Linked DNA regions of Homo sapiens: region 2 is linked to region 1. The links come from fine-mapping of genetic effects on gene expression. A gene starts in region 1. The other region holds a variant in brackets. All regions are shown on one strand. Distances are between the middles of the regions. Region 1 holds the start of NRDC (nardilysin convertase). Region 2 overlaps NRDC (nardilysin convertase).

Region 1 (17,294 bases):
GTTGCCCAGGCTGGAGTGCAGTGGCACGATGTTGGCTTATTGTAACCTCCACCTCCCGGGTTCAAGCAATTCTCTGCCTCAGCCTCCCGAGTAGCTGGGATTACAGGTGCCCTCTGCCACGCCTGGCTAATTTTTATATTTCTAGTAGAGATAGGGTTTCACCATCTTGGCCAGGCTGGTCTTGAACTCCTGACCTCGTGATCCACCCACCTCTGCCTCCCAAAGTGCTGGGATTACAGGCGTGAGCCCCTGCGCCCAGCCAATGCATCCTATGCATGTAGGAAATTATTATTTACAGTGCCTGATACATAGTTGGTATGCAAAAAGCATTTGCTAAGTGAGACTAATTATTACTTGACAGTCCTTGGGATGTGGAAATGTGATTGCAAAACATGTGTTAGGTACTTTGGGAAGGAAAAGAGATCATATATGGCATCTACTCCTAAATTAATTACAATATAATTAGGGAGGCAATATTCATGAGAAGATTTAAACAGGAGTTCAAAATTTATATAAGACAATAGTACAAGAGAAGTCACAGGTTATATATGATTTACTGCCAAGGAAATGATACCAACAACATGTATCCCAAGTTCAGGTATGGAATGGATATGGGCTGTAATAGTCAAAGTTCAGGTATGGAATGAGTGTGGGCTGTAATAGTCAAAGAAGGCTTCTATGAGGAGGTAGGTCAACCAGACTGGAGCACAGTAGGATCTTGGAGAGTGTGGGTAGAGGAAGAATAATCACTACTGTTACCCCCACAAACACCATTTTTCTGCCCCCAATTTCAGGAATTTACATTGTTCATTTAAGACACTGATAGTTCCAGTGTTTCAAATGGTACCCTTTTTGTCTCCCTTCTGTAACATTTTTCCTTTTAATTTTGAAATAATCTCCAACTTACAGGAAAGTAACAAGAACAGTACAAAGAAGTATTTTTTTCCCCTCTGAACCTTTCGAGAGTAGGTTACCCCTATGATGTTCCATCATTCACAAATTCTCAAAATCAGGAAATCAACATTGATGTATTACTATCATCTAATCCACAGAACCCATTCAAGTTTAAGCAGTTATCCCAATAATGTCATTGAAAGTGATGCATTTAGTTATGTCTCATTAATCTTTAATCAGAACAATTCTTTAGTCTTTCTTCGACTTTCATGACCTTGCTACTTGTAAAGATTATAGGTGAGTTATTTTATAGAATATCCCTCAATTTGATTTGTCTGGTGTTTCTTCTTGATTAGATTCAAGTTACGCATTTTGGGCAGGAATAGCACAGAAGGCATGCTGGGTTTTTCCTCGTGACATACTGTCAGGCTATAGCAATTTCAATTTGTCTCCTTACTAATAATATTAGTTTACAGATTAAGTGGTGTTTGCCAGGTTTTTCCACTGTTAAGTTATTCTTTGTCCCTTCTTAATTAATAAGTATTTTGTGAAGAGGTACTTTGAGACTATGTAAATATTCCATTCCTCATCAGATGTGTACCAAGAAGTTTAGCATACATAGATGTTTCTTGGTTGATTTATTACTGTTATGGTTGCCAAATGGGGATTTTCTAATTCCATCATTGCTTGTACATTTATTGTTGGTATTATACTGTAACAAAAAGTTTTCTTCTTTCATTCATTCATTCAGCAGTTTAGACACATTAATTCCCATTAATACTATTGTTATTTATTTTGAGGCTCAAATTGTCCACATTCTGGCCCTGGGAGTGAGAGTCCCTCCAAGCTGGACTCTGTGTCTTTTTGATATGTTCTCATTATTCTATGAATACTTCTTTACTTTGTGGCTTAGCAAGATGTTCCAGGTTCATCTTGTACCTTCTCTGCCCTAGCCTTGGAATCAGTCATTTCTCCAGGAAGCTTTGGTTCTTTTTATTGGAAAATGGCCTTTTAGTGCAAAATGCATTTGGAAACCAAAATGGAGGTGTTAGGTATGCTCATTGCTGTTGGGGTGTCACTGCTCCTAGGTCCTCTTAGTGAACATAGCTAGAAAATATATGTATGTATATACATACTCACATACACATACACACACACATTTTATTATTATTTTTGAGACAGAGTCTTGCATTGTCACCCAGGCTGGAGTGCAGTGGTGCAATCTCGGCTCACTGCAACCTCCACCTCCCGGGTTCAAGCAATTCTCCTGCCTCAGCCTCCCAAGTAGCTGAGACTATAGGCGGGTGCCACCACGCCAGGCTAGTTTTTGTATTTTTAGTAGAGATGGAGTTTTGCCATGTTGGCCAGGCTGGTCTCAAACTCCTGACCTCAGGTTATCCACCCACCTTGGTCTCCCAAAGTGCTGGGATTACAGGCATGAGTCACTGCGCCCGGCCACACACACACATCTATGTTTTATTCTATGTCCACCTATTGCAAATCATGAGTTTACACAAATACCTACAATTCCAATCCAACACCACAGAGTTCATTCTAATTTTCTGCTTTTCCATATTTGTAACTCCTTACATCTACAGTGAGAAGCCTGGATCCCATCTCCCATTATCCTCAATATATTTATTTATTTGGTAAATCACCCGTTTGTAACCAATCTCCCATTGTTACTGCGGCCCTCACCTCTCCCCTCCTCACTCTGCTTGGATTCGGACACTTTGCACTATCAGCCTATGTGGTCACCCTCTTTAACCGTGCATGCTCTAACAAATATCATCATGCTGTTACCACACATGCTGGACACAGGTGCCAGGCTTGCTTAGCTCTACCTAAGTAAATGATTTTTAGACACAATTATTTAGAAGGTAGGCAGGCTGTTGGAAAGCCAGATGCTTTCTTAATGAGAGTTATCAACTGTCATTTTCGTGTACATGTTATAACATTTGTTACTGTGCATATTACATTTAAAGCTTAGACTGGGGGGTTGGCTGGGCACAGTAGCTCACACCCTATAATCCCAGCACTTTGGGAGACCAAGGTGGGCAGATTGCTTGATCCCAGGAGTGCAAGACCAGCCTGGGCAACATGTGAAAACCTGTCTCTATAAAATAAAATTAAATAAAGTAAAGCTTAGACTTGGGGTTAACTACAGCAGGGAATATCAATGATCAAATTAACACATCATAAGTCTATTTATTCTAGGTATGTGACAGGCAACATGTAAGAGATGAAAAAATATAATCTTTGGAATCAGACACTCATGGTTTGCAATTTCAGTAGTCCAACTTTCCTATTGTTGATTTTGTGCAAGTTATCTAACTTCTCTCGACCTCAGTTTCTTCATCTATAAACTGGTGAATAACATATTTAGGTTGCTGTGAGGATTAAGTGAGTTAATGAAAGTAACAGTCTTAGAGGCCAGGTGTGGTGGCTCATGCCTGTAATCCCAGCACTTCGGGAGGCTGAGGCGGGCAGATCACCTGAGGTCAGGAGTTCGAGACCAGCCTGACCAACGTGGTGAAACCCCGTCTCTACTAAAAATGCAAAAATTAGCTGGGCATGGTGGCAGGTGCCTGTAATCCCAGCTACTCAGGAGGCTGAGGTAGGAGAACTGCTTGAACCCAGGAGACGTAGGTTGCAGTGAGCTGAGATTGCACCACTGCACTCCAGCCTGGGCAACCGAGCAAGACTTCTTCCCCCCAACCCCACATCCCCCCAAAAAAGAAAGAAACAGTCTTGGCACAAAGTATTACAGTTACTCAAGAAACAGAAACTACCAGCTGGGCTTGGCTTCAAGACATGTGAAATTTAAACAAGCAAAAAAAAAAAAAAAAAGAAAGACAAATATCGCATTTACCAGTTCCCATGAAAGCAGAACATTCTATACTACTACCTATCCTTTCAGTCCCAACACTGACTTTCTATCATGTTTCAAAACAAAACAAAACAAAACAAAAAAGGAGGCTGGGGACTATTAGAAGGGAACTCTTTTAAATTCCTGCTGCTTCTTTCTGCTTCTTTCTTCCTAAAACGATGTAAAATTTTTGCTGCATTTGCACCTATCTGTGTATCTTTCCTTCTGGGCCAAATGATAATGGTGTTCCTCTACAATTTAAGGCTAATCCCACTCTTCTGTCTCTCCAGGGATCTTGAAACTTCAATTTCCTGTATCATTCATTCATCAATTTGACAAGTATTTGTTGAATACCTACCACATGCCAGGCCCCATTTTTGACTCTAGGGATGTAGTGGGGAACAAGACAAATGAGGTACCAGCTTTCTCATGGGCCTATAACATACAGAGGGTATGTATAGATAGTAAGCTTTTTTTTTTTTTTTTTGAGATGGAGTCTCGCTCTGTCACCCTGGCTAGAGTGCAGTGGCACGATCTCGGCTCACGGCAACCTCCGCCTCCCAGGTTCAAGGAATTCTCCTGCCTCAACCTCCCGAGTAGCTGGGACTACAAACGCCTGCCACCATGCCCGGCTAATTTTTTATTTTTAGTAGAGACAGGGTTTCACCATCTTGGCCAGGCTGGTTTCGCACTCCTGACCTTGTGATCCACCCACCTCCGCCTCCCAAAGTGCTGGGATCACAGGCGTGAGTCACCGCGCCCGGCCTAAACAGTAAGCTAATAGACAAATAATATAATTTCAGATGATGAGTATTATTTTAATTAATTATTTTGAGACAGGGTATTGCTCTGTCATCCAGACTGGAGCACAGTGGCATGATCATGGCTCACTGCAGCCTCACCCTCCTGGGCTGAAGCAACCCTCCCACCTCAGCCTCCCAAGTATCTGGCATGTACCACCACACCTGGCTAATTTGTGTGTGTGTGTGTGTGTGTGTGTGTGTGTGTGTGTATTTTTTGTAGAGACGGGGTTTCACCATGTTGCCCAGGTTGTTCTCAAACTCCTGGCTTGAGCAACCCACCCGCCTCGGCCTCCCGAAGTGCTGGGATTATAGGTGTGAGCCACCGTGCCTGACCATGAGTACTATTTTAGATAGAATAAGAAAAGGCCTCTCTTAAGAGTGACATGTTTTCTGACATATGACTGGTGTGAAGAACTCAGCTATGCAAAATTTAGAGTAAGAACACTCCAGGCAGAGAGGCAGAGGTAATGGCCCTAAAGCAGGAACTACTCTAGTGTGTTGAAGGACATTAAAAAGCCAGTGTGACTGGAGCAAAAAGCTGAATGGTAGATGAGATGGTAGACTTAGAGGAAGGACAGAAATAATTAATAAGCAAGCCATATAAGCGATAGCAAGAGGCTGGATTTTATTCAAAGAGCAAAGGAATGCCATGATGGGTTTCTTAAAAGCGAATAATATAATTAGATTTTTAAATATTATTTTGTGTCTTTACATTCTTCTTTCCAGGCAGAGTTTCAAAAAATATGTATCTTTAGTCCAGAGATGAGGAGCAACTTAGCTTGATTTGTGATAAAATAATATTTCATTTGTCACATTTTTTAGAGTCACTCCTAATTTATCACGAAGTTTTGAACATCAAATTCTTCTAGAACTATGTTTATAGTATAGGAGAAAACTTTTTTTTTTTTTTTTGAGACAGAGTCTCACTGTGTTGCCCAGGCTGGAATGCAGTGGTGCAATCTCAGCTCACTGCAACTTTTGCTTCCTGCGTTAAAGTGATTTTTCTGCCGCAGCCTCCCAAGTAGCTGGCATTACAGGCATGAGCCACCATGCCCGGCTAATTTTGCTATTTTTAGTAGAGATGGGGTTTCACCATGTTGGCCAGGCTGGTCTCGAACTCCTGACCTCAGGTGATCCATCTGCCTTGGCTTCCCAAAGTGCTGGGATTACAGGCATGAGCCACCGTGCCTGGCTGAGAAAACTATTTCTATGGTCACACAAATTGCTTGGTATATTGTGCACACATTCAGTTTCGGGGGAGAAGACTCCATAAGAACATGCCTACTTCTTGACCTAGATACAAAGCTGCCAAATGTGGATAGCAATCAGTGGGTGGGACAATTAATAACCAGAGCTCCAAAGGTATAATTTCTTAGCGCATGGGCCCTGGACAAAATGTTGAAGTGGGTAATATTTCTCTTGTTACCTACCTCTTCTTTCTGTGTCTTTCCCCCTAGATTTAGCAATCTCTTCACCTACCCCAGATTCATAGTGATCTGAAGTTGCCTAGAGTGTGCTTCGAACTAGAGGAAATAAAACATATCCATTCACAAAATGGGTTAGTTTTTCAATCCTTTCGAGGGTGTTATTGGCATTTAACAAGAGTTATAAAAAGGGACATAAATCACTAATGAAGGAATTTTAGACATTAAAGCAAGGGGGAGATAATTTGGGGTTTGAGATGTTAATGGGCTCATACTATTCCAATCTACTCAATGTAGAGTCAACATTCCACATTTCTGCCTTATCCTGACTTTCAATTATAAAGATGGATAATTAAGAATAATTTATCTTTTAATTTTTAAAAGTAAGGCTGAGGCTGGGCACGGTGACTCACGCCTGTAACCCTAGAACTTTGGGAGGCTGAGGCGGGTGGATAACCTGAGGTCAGCAGTTCAAGACCAGCCTGGCCAACATGGCAAAACCCCGTCTCTACTAAAAATACAAAAAATTAGCCAGGTGTGGTGGTGCATGTCTGTAATCCCAGCTACTTGGGAGGCTGAGGCAGGAGAATTGCTTGAACCTGGGAGGCAGAGGTTGCAGTAAGCCGAGATCACGCCATTGCACTCCAGCCTGGGCAACAGAGTGAGACTCCATCTACAAAAAAAAAAAAAAAAATTAAGGCTCAGATCTGTCCCTTTTGCATTGACTAAATTAACTTTCAGAGGCAGGGATCGAACACAGAAATGAGCTGTTTTTAATTTTCATGATTTCTAAACTTTCACCAGAATAATAGGGAGACAAGGCTCACCAAATCTGATGGGAGGGAAATCCTTGAGGTAAAAATGGAAAGGAGTTTAAGGTGGCTGAAGACGAAGTGGAAATGTAAAAAAGCCTTTAAATACTGTACTCTCAGAAAGTCTGTCAGGGTCTGAAACCGAAGAAATATTAAGAAATTAAAAAATAAACTTAAAGAAAAAGTCTGGGTTGAGCCCAGTGGTGCACACCTGTAATCCCAGCACTTTGAGAAGCCAAGGTGGGAGGATTGCTTGAGGCCAGGAATTCAAGACCACCCTGGGCAACATAGTGAGACCCCCATCTCTTAAAAATAAATTAGCTAGGCATGGTGGTGCATGCCTGTAGTCCCAATTACTTGGGAGGCTGAGGTGGGAAGATTGCTTGAGTCTAGGAGGTTGAGATTGCAGTGAGCTATGAATACACCACTGCACTCTAGGCTGGGTGACACAGAAAGACCCTGTCTCAAAAAAGAAAAGAGAAGGTCTCGGAAAATGAGGTTAAAAATTACAGTCTTGTACTCTTTAACTTTATTGGGGATATCAAGTTCCTTTTAACTTCCTGATGCCTCAGTTTCCTTTTTTTTGGAGACAGAGTCTCACTCTGTTGCCCAGGCTGGAGTGAAGTAGCACAGTCTCAGTTCATTGCAACCTCGGCCCTCAGTTTCCTATATAATAGTTATACTTTCGCTGGGCACAGTGGCTCATGCCTGTAATCCCAGGATTTTGGGAGGCCGAGGCGGGCAAATCACTTGAGCCCTGGAGTTGAAGACCAGCCCGCACAACATGGACCCTGCCTCTACAAAAAGTACAAAAAATTAGCTGGGCATGGTGGTGCATGCCTGTGATTGTGGTTCCAGCTACTCGGGAGGCTGAGGCAGGAGAATCACTTGAGCCTGGGAGGCAGAGATTGCAGTCAGCCGAGATCATGCCACTGAATTCCAGCTTGGGTGAGAGAGCTAGACCCTGTTTCCAAAAAGGAAAACAACAACACCAACAACAACAACAAAGTAATAGCTTAATTTACCTGTTTCCTCTGAGGAATACTCTTTATAATACAAATGAGAGATGGTAACTTTCCAAATTATTTTAAATAGGAAAACAATACTTCTGGTTTGGAAGTCCTGGCTATGCCTATTGGTCATTTTTGAGTTTCACCTGAATAGGTATTTATCTTTATATCTGAAGACACCAGACTAAAATAATTCAGAGATCCCTTGCCAATTCTTATATTTTATATATCTAATCTGACACTTCTTTTTCTTTGAGACAGAGTTCAATTCTCCTGCCTCAGCCTCCTAAGTAGCTGGGATTACAGGCATGCGCCACCCAAGTAGCTGGGATTACAGGGGTGTACCACCACAGCTGGCTAATTTTTGTATTTTTAGTAGAGACAGGGTTTCGCCCTGTTGACCAGGCTGGTCTTGAACTCCTGGCCTCAACTGATCCTCCTGCCTTGGCCTCCCAAAGTGCTGGGATTACAGGCATAAGCCGCTGCACCGGGCCTCTGATCTGACACTTCTAACATGTGCTGTGGGTCAGAATTGTATTGGGCTCAGCATCAGAGGTATTTTTCCTGTGATCACACAGGTTTTCTTCTTAACACCCTGGTAGTTCCTTCTCAGTCTCTTTTGTGAGTTCTTCCTCTTCTGTAAGTTCCTCAAAGCTTTCTCCTTGGGCCCTTTTTTCACTTCACAATCTCAGTGTAGGTGATCTCATTCAATAAGCTTTGGTTACCACCTAGAAACCAATAAACCTCAAATTTTTATCTCCAATTTAGGTCTCTTTTCTGAGCTTCAGACCTGATCTTCATCTGTGTCTCTCACAAATAACTCAAACTTAACATGTCCAAAACTGAGCTAGTATACTCTTCTCCTACCAAAACTCCTTTTTCAGAATTTCCTGTTTACTGAGTTACTGGCACCATCATCGATCCATCCAGAAAACCAGACAGCAGGGAGTTATACCTAACACTTCTCTCTTTATTCTCCCACATCAAATCAATCACTACCTAATACTGGGCAATTCTACTTCCTGAATACATATTATTTATCTACATCTTTCCATCGCCACTATCACTCCTCAAATCCAAGGTATCATCTTCTATTGCCTATATGACTTCAGCAGCCTTCTAACTGCTCTCTTTTCTTCCAGTCTTGCCTTTGCCCCCACCATCCAATGTTTTTCATACATGAGCCAGAGCGGTCTACTTGGAAAACACTTGTGATCATACTCTCTCTTTTCTTTTGTTCAACCATTATTTACTGAGTACCACAGTGTGCCAGAAACTATTCTAGAAGCTGGGGATCCAATGATATATAAAATAGATAAGGCAATGACCTCTTACTCATAGGAAGGTTCTTTATGATCTCGACCACGGACTGCTTTCCCCTTTGCTTCCAGATTAGTACACTACAATTTAGCCATACTGACTTGCTTTCTCAGGGCTTTTGAACAAGTATGTATATTCCTACACCCAATTCCTATACATTTTTCAAATGTTAATTTACATTTCCCTTATTTACCTTTTTTTTTTTTTGAGTTGGAGTCTCGCTGTTACCCAGGCTGGAGTGCAGTGGCACGATCTTGGCTCACTACAACCTCCACCACCCAGGTTTAAGTGATTCTCCTGCCTCAGTCTCCCGAGTAGCTGGGATTACAGATGCATGCCACCATGCTCAGCTAATTTTTTTTTTTTTTTTTTTTTTGGATTTTTAGCAGAGACGGGTTTTGACATGTTGGCCAGGCTGGTCTCGAACTCCTGACCTCATGATCTGCCCGCCTCTGCCTCCCCAAGTGCTGGGATTACAGGGGTTAGCCACCATTCCTGGCCCATTTCCCTTCTTTAGAGAAACTCTGACCAGTCTAGGTCCCTTTGTTTATATCTTTCCAGAACTACTCACAATTATAAATTTAAAATTTGTGTGTTTGTTTAATGTTTGTCTCTCCCACTAGTTCTCTTTTATGTTCCAAGAGAACAGGAAAATTTCTTGTTCATCACTGTATTCCCAGTTTCTGGCACATACCACGAGCTCAATTTGTTGGTTGAATGAAGAATGGACTGCCTCACATGTGCTATGGAGTTAGAACTGTATTGGGCTCAGCATCAGAGGTATTTTTCCTGTGCATGTTACCATATTTCTACAGTCTGGTAACCTGTAAGATTCAGAGACTTTTATTTTTATTTATTTTGTGGGGACAGAGTCTTACTCTGTCGCCCAGCCTGGAGTGCAGTGGCACAATTTTGGCTCACTGCAACCTCCACCTCCTGGGTTCAAGCAATTCTCTGGCTCAGCCTCCTGAGTAGCTGGGATTACAGGTGTCTGCCACCACACAGAGACTTTTTTTTTTGAGACAGAGTCTCGCTCTGTCGCCCAGGCTGGAGTGCCGTGGTGCAATCTTGGCTCACTGCAACCTCCGCCAGAGACCTCTTTTTAAAGCAGCTCACACTTCAGGATGCAATCTTTGTCTCTTTTTTTTTTTTTTTTTTGGAGACAGGGTCTCACTCTATCACCTAGGCTGGAGTGCAGTGGCATGATCATGGCTTGCTGCAGCCTTGACCTCCTGGGCTCAGGTGATCCTCCCACCTCAGCCTTTCAAGTAGCTGGGACTACAAGCATGCACCACTATACCCAGCTAATTCTTTGTATTTTTTGTGGAGACAGGTTTTCTCTATATTCAGTTTGGTCTCAAACTCCTGGGTTCAAGTGATCCACCTTCCTCAGTCTCCCAAAGTGCTGGGACTACAGACACATGCCATTAGATCCAGCCCACCTTTGTATCTAGTTAGAAAAATTTAATTAAAAACCACTGCTGTGAGCTAGGTGCAGTAGTTATGCCTATAGTAATCCCAGTGATTTGGGAGGCTGAGGTGGGAGGATGGCTTAAGGCCAGGAGTTTGAGACCAGCCTGGATAGACATAGTGAGAACTCATCTCTAAACAAACAAACAAATAAAACCAACAACAACCCACTGCTCTGAAGAAGAGAAGTCTAGTGGAGTTGCTTAAAGTGGTAAGTTCTTGAAAAGATGTATGGAAACAAACTGGGATATTTTAAACAGTATTTTTCAATTTACCTCATCTACTGCTCCAGTTCAGGTTCCATCATTTTCTACCTGAATCATTGTACCCTTCCTCCCTAACTCCTTATCTTCCTATCCTATACAATTTGTCTTCATTGCATTTATTGTTTTTTGTATATGTGAGACAAAGTAGCAAACATAAGAAGCCATGTCTGCTCATTCTGTTTACCAGCAGAATTTCACAAACTCTCTTGCCAGCAGAATTTCACAGCCTCAGTGACTGCGCACAGCCCTCCAGAATACCCTGAAAATATGCAGGATAGAGCACAAGTTCCCATGTCTCTTGCCTGAATCACTGCATTTTTAGAAAAGATAAATCCAATGATGCTCGACCTTGCCTCTTCCTGTACATTTCTGACAGGATTAATGACTATGCCTCCATAATCTATAAACATGTGTACTCTTCCACCTAAACCTTCATGAGATTTTGCTCTAGTGTAACTCCTGAGTACATTTTTTCTTTTTTATTAGAGACAAGGTCTTGCTCTGTCACCAGGCTAGAGTGCAGAGGCACAATCATAGTTCACTGTAACCTCAAACTCAGGAGTCCCAGCAATCCTTTTAACTCTGCCTCTCCTGTAGCTAGGACTACAGGGATGTTCTACCACGCCTTGCTTTTTTATGTGTGTGTGGAGACAGAGTCTTGATATGTTACACAGGCTGGTTGTAAATGCCTGGCCTCAAGCAATCCTTCTGCCTCAGCCTCCTTAATCACTGGGATTACAGGCCCAGCCTTTCTGAGCACATTTGATTTAACTTCCAAGCACATGCAGAGCGGCCACCACCTGTATAGAAGCTGCGGGCTGAAACACTGCTTTGGAGCAGTCTAAAAAAAAAACTCTCTGACTCTCCCAGGTGGCAGTCCTCAATAAGACTTCTGAAGAAAGCTAACTTGAATTATTTAAAAGCCTGATTTACTTTAGTTTACATATTTTACAGTTCCTTCCCATTAGGATGCAAGCTCCCCCAAGGCAAGGCTTTAAATTTTTGTTGTCGTTGTTTAGACAGGGTCTCACTGTGTCAACCAGGCTGGAGTGCAGTGTTGCAATCACGGCTCACTGCAGCCTCGACCTCCTGGACTCAAGCGTTCCTCCTGCCTCAGCCTCCTGAGTAGCTGGGACCACATGCACGCATCACCAAGCCTGGCTAATTTTAAAAAAGAATTTTGTACAGACGGGGGTCTCACCATGTTGTCCAGGCTGGTACCAAATTCCCAGGCTCAAAGCAATCCTCCCGCTTCGGCCTCCCAAAGTACTAGGATTATAGGTGTGAGCTATCACTATCACGCCCAGCCTAAGGCAAGTTTTGTTTTGTTCATGGTTGTATTCCTTGCATTTGGAACTCAGAAGAGGCCTCGAAAACCTTGAAGATACAGTAACTATCAACACATCTCCCTGCTTCACGTCTTTCCCCGCTCATTCGTATGTATGAGCTATGATCTCTTACCCCATGGTGTCAGTATAGTGCATCTTACTAATTTCAGCTGCTTTTTAGCTTTCATTTATGTTTGTATTTCCGTCACATTTTACATTGCTAACCAAAGACCACTGCTAGCGGGAAAAACTGGGAAAGGAGACTTGAAGGCAGCAGACGCTGCAGCTGCTCGATAAAAATTGGCCGAATTTAACAGGAGGCTGGAGGAGCTAAAAAACGTTTTCACACAGAAGAGTTAGCACATCCAGACTGGTCTTTTTAGCACTTTCTTAGGGCTTGAGGATGAAACCCCACCACTGTCGGGCCGACTGTAGGGTAGAGAAGAGCCAATTAGTATTTGCGGCGCTCGGGAGCAGCGTCCATCCGGCGGGTGTAGGAAAATACTTCCGGCGTTCTGGTTTTTTATGTGCTGAGTCACAGCCGAAGGCTCGCCCCGGGTCTGAGGAGTAGGGTACCCAAACTATGACACGAATGGGAAAATTTAAAACTTTGGAATTAATTCTCTGCACTCGTTTCTCAGTTTTCTCATTAGGGGAATATTTTTCTTTGACACGCGGAGCACTACTCAGTGGTTTCCACAAAACACACTCGTACGTCATAAACGCGCCGGGGGCCCTTCTCCCGTCGTCCTCCGCGCCACTCTCTCCGCTTCTTCTCCCTCGCCCCGCCCACTTTGGGTTTCGAAATGTTCGCTGGCTGTTCCGAGAATCAGTCCGGGTCACGTTGGTGCCTCTCCTTTCCTGTTCTGATTGGTTGCTTACGTGAGCGTGACTACTTTCTTGCCTCATGATTGGCTGAAATCAGTAGCGTCATCGGCGGCCGGGAGGGCGGAGGGACGAGGGAAGTCGGCGAGAGGGAGACTGGGTTGGGGGAGGGGTTCAGGCCTGTTCCCCGCGGCTGCGGCAGCACCAGGGCCGGCCGCCACCGCCTCTAGAACGCGGAGGAGGTGGGTCCTGGGAAGCGGGATGTCCATCGCTCCAGCTTGGTGGTGAATGCTGAGGAGAGTCACTGTTGCTGCAGTCTGTGCCACCCGGAGGAAGTTGTGTGAGGCCGGGCGGGAGCTCGCGGCGCTCTGGGGAATCGAAACGCGGGGTCGGTGCGAAGACTCTGCTGCTGCCAGACCCTTTCCTATTCTGGCCATGCCTGGAAGGAACAAGGCGAAGTCTACCTGCAGCTGCCCTGACCTGCAGCCCAATGGACAGGATCTGGGCGAGAACAGCCGGGTTGCCCGTCTAGGAGCGGATGAATCTGAGGAAGAGGGACGGAGGGGGTCTCTCAGTAATGCTGGGGACCCTGAGATCGTCAAGTCTCCCAGCGACCCCAAGCAATACCGGTGAGGGAGGAGGCTTGCAATGGGGAGGCGAACAGTGTGCCGGCTTCTCTGTCGGTGCCGCCGTCACTTCTTGTCTCCATGTCTCCCAATGGAGCAACAGGGCACACTTTCCACCCCAAATGCTTCCTTGGGTGGAGGTGGCAAGCGTGATTAGAGGCTTCCCTGTGGTGTCAGCTGGGCAAGTGGGAGATCTTGGGTTGTAAGACGTCAGAATGGGAGAAGCTTTTCGAGTCATTTGAATACAGTCGCTAAAGCAAGAATGAAGGTTTCTTTGAGGAACGCAGCCTGAATGGTGAGGGAGTCTTGGTATTATGTTACCAGGAAAGGTTGACGGAGTTGGATACTTTAATTTGGAGGACAGGATATTTAAGGGGCATATTATCACTATCCAAAATATTTGAGGGACACTTAAGTGATAGGTGAAACTAGTGGACGAAAGTTACCAGAGGATGGTGTGGCTTCAGTAAAGTAACTTTGCATCATATTTGGCCTAAGTTGAAGTGACTTGTTTCCATGGGTAGTTCTCCATTACCAAAACGGTTGGGCGACCTCGTCCAGGAATATATTAGAGAGGGCTTAGGTCTCAGTTGGGTGAGTTGTAAGGTTTCTTCTAACCTTGAAATTCTCTACTTTTGGTTTGTACAGGAGTTCTCTAAACATTTCTAATAATTGGTGATTCAGTCCCCACCTGAGTATTTTCCTTCAGAGGTAGCTTATTTCATGGAGTATCATGACTATGATGTATCTTGCGTGTGTGTGTGTGCGTGTGTGTTTTAATAAGAGTCTGGGTCTTGCGATGTTGCCCAGGCTAATTTCAAACTCCTGGGCTTAGGGAATCCTCCTGTCTTGGCCTCCCAAAGTACTGGGATTACAGGCGTGAGCCACTGTGCCAGGCCTGGACTTTGATGTATTTTAAATAGAGTTCATATTGTCCAATAACTTCGTTGAACAGGTTGAGGAAATTGAGACCCAAAGAGTTTGCTTCTTGCTCTGAATCACACAGCTAAATAATAACAGAGCTGGTATGATGACCCCTACTATCTGACACCAAATTCAGTGTATCATTTGCTGATTTCCTTTTTTTTTTTGAAACGGAGTCTTGCTGTGTCACCAGGCTGGAGTGCAGTGGCGCGATCTTGGCTCACTGCAACCTCCGCCTCCCGGGTTCAAGCGATTCTCCTGCCTCAGCCTCCCCAGTAGCTGGGACTACAGGTGCTCGCCACCACGCCCGGCTAATTTTTTGTATTTTTAGTGGAGACGGGGTTTCACCATATTGGCCAGGATGGTTTCGATCTCTTGACCTTGTGATCCGCCCGCCTCTTCTCCCAAAGTGCTGGGGTTACAGGCGTGAGCCACCCCGCCCAGCCCGTTTGCCGATTTTTTACAAATTTCTTGCTTATGTGAATTGAAAGCTGAAGGATTCTAGTTCTAAATTTGTTATAAGCCCCTACAGCGTTAGCGCAAGAAACAACCTTATAGATAATCTTTTCCACTTCCCACCACACCTCTTTGACAGATGACACTTAGCTCCAAGTTCAGGACCAACCTAATTTCTCCTTTCACTTCAAGTCTAGATATATTTTCTCCAGGCTGCCAGAGTCAAGAGATCTTTATAAATGAGCTAAATTTTCTTTCTCATCAAAGATGTGATTGTACAGGTTGAGTATCCCTAATCCAAAAATCCAGAATGCTCGGAAATCCAAAACTTTATGAGCGCCAACATGACACCACAAGTGAAAAATTCCACACTTGGCACCTTTGCTTTTTGATGGTTGGTTCATGTACACAAACTTTGTTTCATGCACAAAATTATTAAAAATATTGTATAAAATTATCTTCAGGTTATGTGTATAAGGTATATATGAACCATAAATGAATTTTGTATTTATACTGCATCCCATCCCCAAGATACCTCATTACGTATACGCAAATATTCCAAAATCCAAAAAAATCCAAAATTTGAAATACTTTTGGTCCCGAGTGTTTCGGATAAAGGATACTCAACCTGTATTGGCAATGTATAAATGAGCAAGTTGAAAACTTGATAAAAGGTGCTTAGTTTTTGCCTTCCAGATCAAATGTTCAATAATGGTTTCAGGGTTTTTTCCAGCCTATATAAAGTTATATAATAACTAATATTTATGGAATCTACACTGTGTTTCAGCTACTGTTGTAACTGTTTTAGATGTGTTATTTCATTTACTGACCTCATTTTTGGTAAATTTGTTTGATAAATACCTGTTAAGTCCTACTGTGTGCTAGGCACCAAGCTAGATTAAATATTTTCTGAAACTTGGTCAAATATAATGTAATAAATAACATGTTAGTCTGGGTGAATATACAAAAATGATTGAGCCAGTACCTGCCTTTAGGGAGCTTACAATAGTAGAGAGGGACACAGACACATAAAAAAAAAAATTAGAGACTGTTGTGGTGGCTCATGCCTGTAATCCCAGCACTTGGGGGGCCGTGTTGGGAGGATCACTTGAGCGCAGGATTTCGAGACCAGCCTGGGCAACATAGTGAGCCCCTGTCTCTACACACAAAAAATTAGCCGGGTGTGGTGGTGTGTGCCTGTAGTCCCAGCTACTTGGGAAGCTGAGGTAGGAAGATTCCTTAGCCTGAGAGGTTGAGGCTGCAGTGAGCCATGATCGTGCCACTGCACTCCAGCCTGGGTGGCAGTGAGACACTGTCTCAAAAAACAAATAAATAAAACTAGGGCACTAAAGTTTTATAGAAGCCATAACGGAGGTATGTCCTAGATATATTGAGGAATGAAATACATTGATAAATTCCACCGGGGGAGAAAGGAAAGACTTCAAAGAGTAGATAATGCTTAAGAGTTGTTCTTTGAAAATTGTTGCGTTTTTGTCTTTATATGGCTTTTGCCAAGTCATTGTCCTTCTTAGTGTCTCAGCTTATTTTAAAAACGAAGGGGGTTGGTTAGAACAGCAGTGTTTTTCAATAACCCTCCCCTTTCAGAAGAGCAGTTCTTCCATATTACCTGTTTTATATACTGGAGTTTCAATTAGACTTTTGAAGAAAAGATGTTATTAGTTTAAAATAAAGGTGGAAAGCCTCAGGACTAGGTGATCTTTAAAGACTTATCCAAATTCAATTCTATGAATTTTTGTAACCAGAAACACACTTAGACGCATCTGCAGCCCACAGAGCTGAATTATCCTTCCAGATTCTGCTGAGATATTCCCTCTGTGAAGTCTTTCTAGGCAGAACTAATTCCTCCTTCCATTGTATTTCAGTAGGATTTTGTGCACGATCCATTACAGTACATAGCATCATATTATATATCTTTTGAATAAGTACCAGAGGAGGACCCATTTAGAGGAATATTGTGGTGAAATAATACCTTGAAAGATTTACCAGTCTGCATTTATTAATAGCCTGCGGAATTTTACTTCAGCATATGTGTAATTTGTATTCCGCTTTTTTGAAATGTTGGGCATATTTCCAGGACACCTATTATGCTTTTTTAGGGATCTGTATTAAATGCTTACCAAGTATTGATTCCCTTCCCTTCTGGAAGGGTTAAGGGACTTCAGGTTGGGAATTGATATTCAAATTTTTATTGGTGTTGAGTGGAAATTCTGGTTGGGCAGGATTAGTAGTGGTGTATTCTATTTATT
Region 2 (8,000 bases), 55 kb after region 1:
AGAGATCTAATATTTTTTTTAAAAATTGGCCTGGTGTGGTGGCTCACACCTGTAATCCCAACACTTTGGGGGGCCGAGGTGGGCGGATAACTTGAGGCCAGGAGTTCGAGACCAGCCTGGCCAACACGGTGAAACCCTGTCTCTACTAAAAACACAAAAATTAGCTGGGCTTGGTAGCATGTGCGTGTAATTTCAGCTACTTGGGAGGCTGAGACAGGAGAATTGCTTGAACCTAGGAGGCGGAGGTTGCAGTGAGCTGAGATCATGCCATAGCACTCCAGCCTGAGTGACAGAGTGGGACTCTGTCTCAAAAACAAAATAAAATAAAAAAGATAAAATAAAAAGAAATTATCTCTTTTCTTAAGAGATTAATTTGATCTGGAAAAATCCTTTGGACATATTCCTATAAATTGGAAGCATATGCCACTATTTATTTATTTTTTTTTTGGAGACAGTCTCACTCTGTTGCCCAGGCTGGAGTGCAGTGATGTGATCTCGGCTGACTGCAGCCTCATGCCTATAATTCCAGCACTTTGGGAGGCCAAGGTGTGTGGATCACTTGAGCCCAGGAATTCGAGACCAGCCTGGCCAACATGGTGAAACCCCATCTCTACTAAAAATACAAAAATTAGCTGGGTGTGGTGGCGCAGGCCTGTAATCCCAGCTGCTTGGGAGGCTGAGGCACGAGAATTGCTTGAACCTGGGAGACGGAGGTTGCAGTGAGCTGAGATCGCACCACTGTACTCCAGCCTGGGTGATGGACCGAGACCCTGTCTCAAAAAAAAAAAAAAGAAAGATAAATCAATGAAGGCAATGCAAATGATGCCTGAGATGATCTTTCCTATAAATTTAGACAGGATCAGCAATACCTTCAGAGGAGACTTTAACCATACAACTTTGAAGAAAACTGCATCTTTACTCTTGTTACAGAGTTCTCAGCTCTTAAGTTTTACAGAATCCAAACAGGTCTTTGTATGTGTGAAGAAATCTTAAGCAGAAGACAAGTTGAATTTTTACAACTTTATATTTAGCTTTGTCCATATACAAAGAAGGAAAAATAACTGATTTTATTGGGAAAAAGGATAGGCAAATGGTATGTATGATATGAATACATTCTGGCCATCTCAGAGATGATGAAATTTGGTATAAAATGTAGTTAAGAAATTTGTTTTGTTTCCTTTTAAAGAGTTGTTCTAAATATGTTTTGTACAAGGACTGCTTCAGCATCTAAGAATATCACCTTACACATTTATTTTTATTTAAAAAGAAAGCCACCCAATAAGAAAGCCACTGCATTAATAGGATAAATTAATGAGAATATCAAATCATAAATTTATGCCATAAGTAGAGCATTATAGGGTGCAAATACTATAATAAATGCTATAATATTATACTTCTACAATGTATAAGGAAAAGCCTTTATACGTGTGTAATATGCTCTTATATAACATGGATTAAGTACCTGTTTTTAATAGGTTAGCAAAATCTGATTCCCTCACACAGGCCACATTGTTTATAAGTATCTTTTAAATAAACAGCTGAGGAAATGACTAAATTTTTACTCCAGTTAAGTAAGTGAGCATGGAAGCCGTCTTTACCATGGTGGCGTCTTCTATTTTCAGTAAATTTGAACTTTATTTTATCAGTATTTCATGGTAAGAGTGACAAATATCAAAGCTTAGGATGTCCACTTCTAACAGGAGACCCTCCCCATTATAAGCGGGAATACAAAATCTTCACTTTCAGGTTGTGAAAAAGGATGAGGCGTCCTGAGTAGTTATAGCCTAGATTCCAAGTGCCTGAGTATTCTGGGGAACCCCAAGTCTTGATTGTAGCTTCATGGGCAGAACTGGTAGTGTTCCCAGGAGCCTGGGAGAAGCAAACATAAGGCATCTCAAAAGGAAGATGCCTTCCTTCTAGGCCCTAAATTGTTACAAATATTTTTTCAAGTAAAATAACCAACATTCAGTCAAAAATAAGCAGGTACTCAGGAAAATAATACAACATGATTGAGAACAGATAACACAAACAGATTCTGAGACATCTCAAGTACTGGCATAGTTACACACAATTTCTAAAATAATTATACTTTCTATTTTTTAAGAAATAAAGGCCAGACGCAGTGGCTCATGCCTGTAATCTCAGCACTTTGGGAGGCCGAGGCGGGTGGATCACGAGGTCAGGAGTTTGAAACCAGCCTGGCTAATATGGTGAAACCCCATATCTACTAAAAATACAAAAATTAGCCGGGTCCGGTGGCGGGTGCCTGTAGCCCCAGCTACTTGGGAGGCTGAGGCAGGAGAATCGCTTGAACGTGGGAGGCAGAGCTTGCAGTGAGCCGAGATAGTGCCACTGCACTCTAGCCTGGGTGACAGAGCGAGACTCTGTCACAAAAAAAAAAAAAAAAAGAAATAAAAGACAAATTTGAATATACTTGCAAGGAATAAGAAACTGTCAAATATGACCTAGGAAATTTGTAAAATGAAAAGATACATCTTGAACTGAACTATGATAAAAAAAATTGAAAATGTCATGGACAAGTTTAAGAGTAAATAGAGTTGAAGATAGAATTAGTAAGCCAGAAGATAAGACAGAAGGAATTAACCCAAGTATAGCATAAAGAACATATATAACCCAAATATAGCATATAGCACAAAATTAAAAATACAAAGAATATGAAGCATAGAGGATAGAATGAAAACATCCCATGTATTTTACTTGTAGTTGTAGAAGGAGGAGAGAGAAAATTGAAGTAGAGACAACAGTTGAAGGGTTGATCACTGGAAAATTTTCAGAACCTGTTGTAAGACATCAAATCAGAGGTTAAAGTCTAATAACTTCCAAAAGGATACATTAGAAGAAATATGGAAAATTTTTGCCAGATAAAGAGAAAATTTTCTTCAAAGGAAGATGAGTTACACTTACAGATGACTACTCAACTTCGTGCTCTGAAGGAAAATAACTACCAACTAATAACTAGAATCATAAATTGTACACTAAATAAAAATATCTTTTAAGAATGTTAGTAGGCTGGGCATGGTGACTCATGCCTATAATCCCAGCACTTTGGAAGGCCAAGGCAGGTGGATCACTTGAGCCCAGCAGCTGGAGACCAGTCTGGGTAACATGGTGAGGGAAAAAAATTAGCAGGGCATGATGGTACATGCCTGTAGCCTCAGCTACTTGGGATGCTGAGGTGGGAGGATCACCTGAGCCTGGGGAGTTCAAGGCTCCAGTGAGCCGTGATGTGCCACTACACACTCCAGTCTGGGTGACAGAATTAAATAAAATTAGTTTCATTATTTAAGTCAACAGAAATTATCCAACCCATCATTAATCATACCAAGTACTGAAAAGAAAAAAAATGCCCCAATATATCTAGCAGGTAGTTAAGTTAAAAGTTACCTTATTGCAAGCAAAAGTTAAAAGTTTTTTAAAGAAGCCTGAGCAATATAGGGAGACCCTGTCTCTATAAAAAATTTAAAGATTTAAAAAAAAATGGTAGTGCACACCTCTAGTCTCAGCTACTTCGGAGGTTGAGGCAGGAGGATTGCTTGAACCCGGCAGTTTGAGGCCGCAGTGAGCAGTGATTGTGCCACTGCATTCTAGCCTGAGTGATAGAGTGAGACACTATATCCAAAAAAAAAAAAAAAAAGTTTACTAAACATTTTAGGAAATTAATTTTTTAAATCATTCTATTTTGCTGGAAAAACACCAATACACCAATCTTTGAATAATTTTTAACAATTTAATTGCATTGCTATTATGTATTTATATAAGTGGTAATTTGTATATGTAATTTGATACATCACAGTTTATATAATTAAAAATTAATTTAAAAAGCAGATGAAATTATAAGATTAACTTAAATACCAAGTCTTTAAAATTCTAATTTAACTTTTAACTGAAACGTTTTTAGTCATCTGTAAACTTGCATTGAACTAAAAAAGTAAGCTTTATATACTCTATAAAAACATGGATATACATAACATTACATAAATAGACTATCTGTGATATTACAATTTTACAAAGGAATGAATAGGAGAACATTTCCGAAAAGGCTCCTAAGGGTTGAAAATGGAAATAAAAAGGGTTGATAAACATTGGGTTAGAAATAGGTATATAGGTAATAAAACTATAAAGAAAAGGAGAGAAATTACTGCTATACATTCAGGATATTTCTTGAGGTAAGGGTAGGAGCTGGGTGCTTCTAGAGTGTTGACTATGGTCTGTTTCTTCACCTGGGTGGGCCACTCAGGTGTAGTTTATATGTTCATGTTTTGTTAACTTTTCTGTATGATTGTTATTAAATATATTTCACAATGAAAAAGTTAAAGTAACATGTAGATATTAGTTTAAAATATAGAAATGCAGATTATTTAGATTTTATATACTTAGGATTGTGAATTAAATCTCCAACTTAGTAAGTTTCTTAATTAAAATAATAGATGTTGATTGATGAAAGTGAACAAAAA[C/T]GGAAATGCCAGTTTTGTTTTTTGTTCAGATGGGCGCAGTTCTTCATCCACCCACTAATGATCAGAGATGCAATTGACCGTGAAGTTGAAGCTGTTGATAGTGGTAAGAGGAGTACTTTATGTGTAACTACAGTTTTTTCCTTCATGAAACCAGTTACTTATTACATTTATCCTTCTTTATCTCTAGACCATTTTATCTTTATATTTTAAAGGACTAAATTGAAATATGTGTTATGTTTGTTCCTGAAGTCATTAAACATCTAATTCAGTGTAGATTTGAAGTAAATGAAAAGGATGGTGGATTTTAGTTTTTTCATCCTTTGTTTTTCGAAGGTTTTACCATAGGGGCTAATCTTTTGAGATTCAAAGATTGAAGACTATAAAGGAAAAGAATGTGCTTATATAGGGTGAGGCTTCATTATAGATCTGTGCTATAAATATTCCTTAATTACATAGTACCAATAAATATCACCATTGTATATTATCCCTGCTTGATTTATTTAAGTATTAGAAGCATTTAATACTAGACTTGAGGGGACTTCCAGTTCATATAGGTTAGGCTTGGCTTATAGCCACTGCAAGTCTCTGTATTTGTTCCACTTTTTGTAGTATTTCCCTCCTTGGTTTGATGCAGTGTCTAGTTCTAATAATGATGTAAAGCATTTACTAGGCTGAGTAAACTACAGATGGCTAGAGTGATCTATCTGGAAGTCAACAGACCCCTGTTTAACTTACAGAAGTGTCTAGCTGTGGCATTCAGTTTATTTGTAAAAAAGGATGGAATGGTTAAGCTCCTCCTAGCTGTAGTAGCTCCTTGGAAATCAAGGATTTATTTTCTTTATTTTTTTACTTGCCTACCACAGTGTCTGTTTTACCTTAAACCCAGTTAAATACCTGTTGAATGGATGAAAAAACAAAACAACTAAGGATAACTAAAAGCACTTTTCATATTTTGAGACTCAAGAACTGTTATCTGTGTCTTAAATGCTTTCTAGTATGTTTTTCTTTATACAGTTTCTAGAGTGGGTTGACACCAGTGTTTAAACAAGCAGACCTTTAATTAGATTTTACAATTTTAAGCCAGAATATATTTTATTATGCTTTGAAAAATTATGCTGAAAGAAATATATATGTATATACACACACAGTATGGAGTTTTGGTTTATGCTGAACTAAAGTAAAAATTCTGTTGTGCTTTTGTTCATGATCTGCCTGCTTCGGCCTCCCAGAGTGCTGGGATTACAGGTGTGAGCCACTGCGCCCGGCTGATAAATTATTTTTAATAATTGACTTTTTATTTTAATGATGGTTTATACTCACATAAACATATATAATTGCCTGCATAGTATGTCTTAGTGATTGAGATGAAAGGCATGTCCAATGCCTTTTTAAATCTTAATTATGTGTCAAAGTGCAGTCTCTATTTTTATTTACTTACTTCTTCATTTTTAATGTTTGTTTCCTTTCCAAATATGGTCTCTAAGTGTTCAGATATTTATACTCTATTTTTATCAGTTGCAAGGGGTCTTAAATCACTTTTCGTAGATATGTTTACATGTCTGCTATATTACCTGTTATTGCAGAAACATGGTGGCTTAAAATAAAACATTTATTTTCTTACAGTTTTGGAGGAATGGAATCAGGTACGTTAGATAACTTCCTCAAGGTTGTTGAGCTTAGTGTCAGAACTGCAGTTCTAGCGGTTTTTAGTCCATTTGGGCTGCCATAATGGAATCCCACAGACCGGGTGGCTTATAAACCACAGAATTGTTTCTTACAGTTTTGGAGGCTGAGAAGTCCAAGATCAAAGAACTGGCAGATTTGGTGTCTGGTGACAGCCTGCTCTCTGGTTCATAGAAAACTGCCTTCACTCTTTGTCCTCATACAGCAGAAGGGGCAAGGGAGCACTCTGAGGTCTCTTTTACAAGGGACTAATCCATTCATGAGGGCTCTGCCCTCATTACCTAATCATTTCTCATTGGCCCCTACCTCCAAATACCATCACATTGGGGATTAAGTTTCAACATAGAAATTTTGGGTGGGGGGACACAAACATTCAGTCTTTAGCGGTAGCTAAAGGTATTTCTGACTTCAAAGTGGATTGTTCTTAGCCATCATACTTTATTACCAACATAGTTGGTTTTGGAAGAAATTTAAACAATATATATGACCAAATTCCCAGATAAAAGGATTAATATTTTATTAGCATTTTCATCAGTAAAATCTTGTACATAGCATCCTAGAGCTGAAACTTTCAGATTATTAACTACCTTGTGTTTCATTTGAAAAATAAGAGTAAGACTCTGGTAAGCTGAATTGATTTACCCAAAATTACAGGTCATATTAAGTCATAGAGCCAGGCCTGGATCATTGAGTTTCCCACTTCAGTCTTATAACACGTGATTCATGAAGTTAATTTTGTTAATTCCTTGCTTTCTGTTCTGTAAGTTTGAATTTCCATATAATAAAGGAGATACTGAATTTTGTTTTATTATGTGTTTATTTAAAATTGACAGAATATCAACTTGCAAGGCCTTCTGATGCAAACAGAAAGGAAATGTTGTTTGGAAGCCTTGCTAGACCTGGACATCCTATGGGAAAATTTTTTTGGGGTAAGATACTAAATACATCATCTTATTTCATATTTTCTAGTTAAGATTTAGAATAAGAAAAGTTGATAAAGAATTGAAAATTATAAAGCTAGAGTCCCTAGGTACCTTTTACCTTTTAGGATAGCTAGTTAGCCTTTCAAACGCGAAGTTGTTAAATATGCCTCTATTTGGTTCTCTAACAGTGAATATAGCAAGAGTAACACCTAACATTTTGTGAATGCTTTTTAAGTGCCAGATACTGTGCTAACACTACATGAATTATTTCATTTGATCATTATCACAATGTTCAGAGATAGGTACCATTATCATCTCCATTTAAAGATAAACAGGTTTAGGCCAGGCGTGGTGGTTCACACCTGTAATCCCAATGCTTTGGGAGGCTGAGGTGGGAGAATCACTTGAGACCAGTTCAAAACCAGCCTTGGCAACATAGTGAGACCCCATCTCTATTTTAAATTTCAGTCAAGTTATCTCATTTGTTTAAATCACACAGATAGTAAGTGGTGGATGTGAGATTTGAACATCTGTTTATCTGATTATAAAGTCTGTGCTCTACCTCAGCCTGACATTTCCATTTGTCAACAGAGTTAGCAATAGTTTCTGTAAGAGTTTTTGAACTGCGACTTAATTTTGTTCATCTAGTAAACTGTTTAACTGGTGTCTGTTTTTCATAATGGCATTTTCTTAGTGGGAGGATTTAGTTACAGCCTCATATTAATCCTGTTGACTATAGAGTAAAATTTAGGATGAGATGATCTGAATTATTCTTTAAAGGGTGTTTTGTTTCCCTGTATATTTCTGTACAGTTATATACATTTTATAGGGCATTCTTGCTTCATGTGTTTTATTTTTAAGAATTAGATAGCCGGGCGCGGTGGCTCACGCCTGTAATCCCAGCACTTTGGGAGGCCGA

The links.
Region 2: its variant is fine-mapped to the expression of NRDC in whole blood (INTERVAL, PIP above 0.99).

The regions. Positions count from the first base shown.
Region 1 is chr1:51,874,631-51,891,924 of GRCh38, reverse strand. NRDC (nardilysin convertase) reads left to right here and starts at 13,198. Exons shown (of 31, transcript NM_001101662.2): 1 at 13,198-13,650. The coding sequence starts at 13,310. RefSeq lists silencers at 8,402-8,602, 10,956-11,153, 13,111-13,160 and enhancers at 11,907-12,460, 12,851-13,030, 12,914-13,208, 14,877-15,408.
Region 2 is chr1:51,824,374-51,832,373 of GRCh38, reverse strand. NRDC (nardilysin convertase) reads left to right here. Exons shown (of 31, transcript NM_001101662.2): 5 at 4,505-4,578; 6 at 6,992-7,087. Among named protein-coding and RNA genes, the nearest start is that of MIR761, 8.0 kb to the left of the region's middle. The variant C/T (reference allele first, on the strand shown) is at 4,476.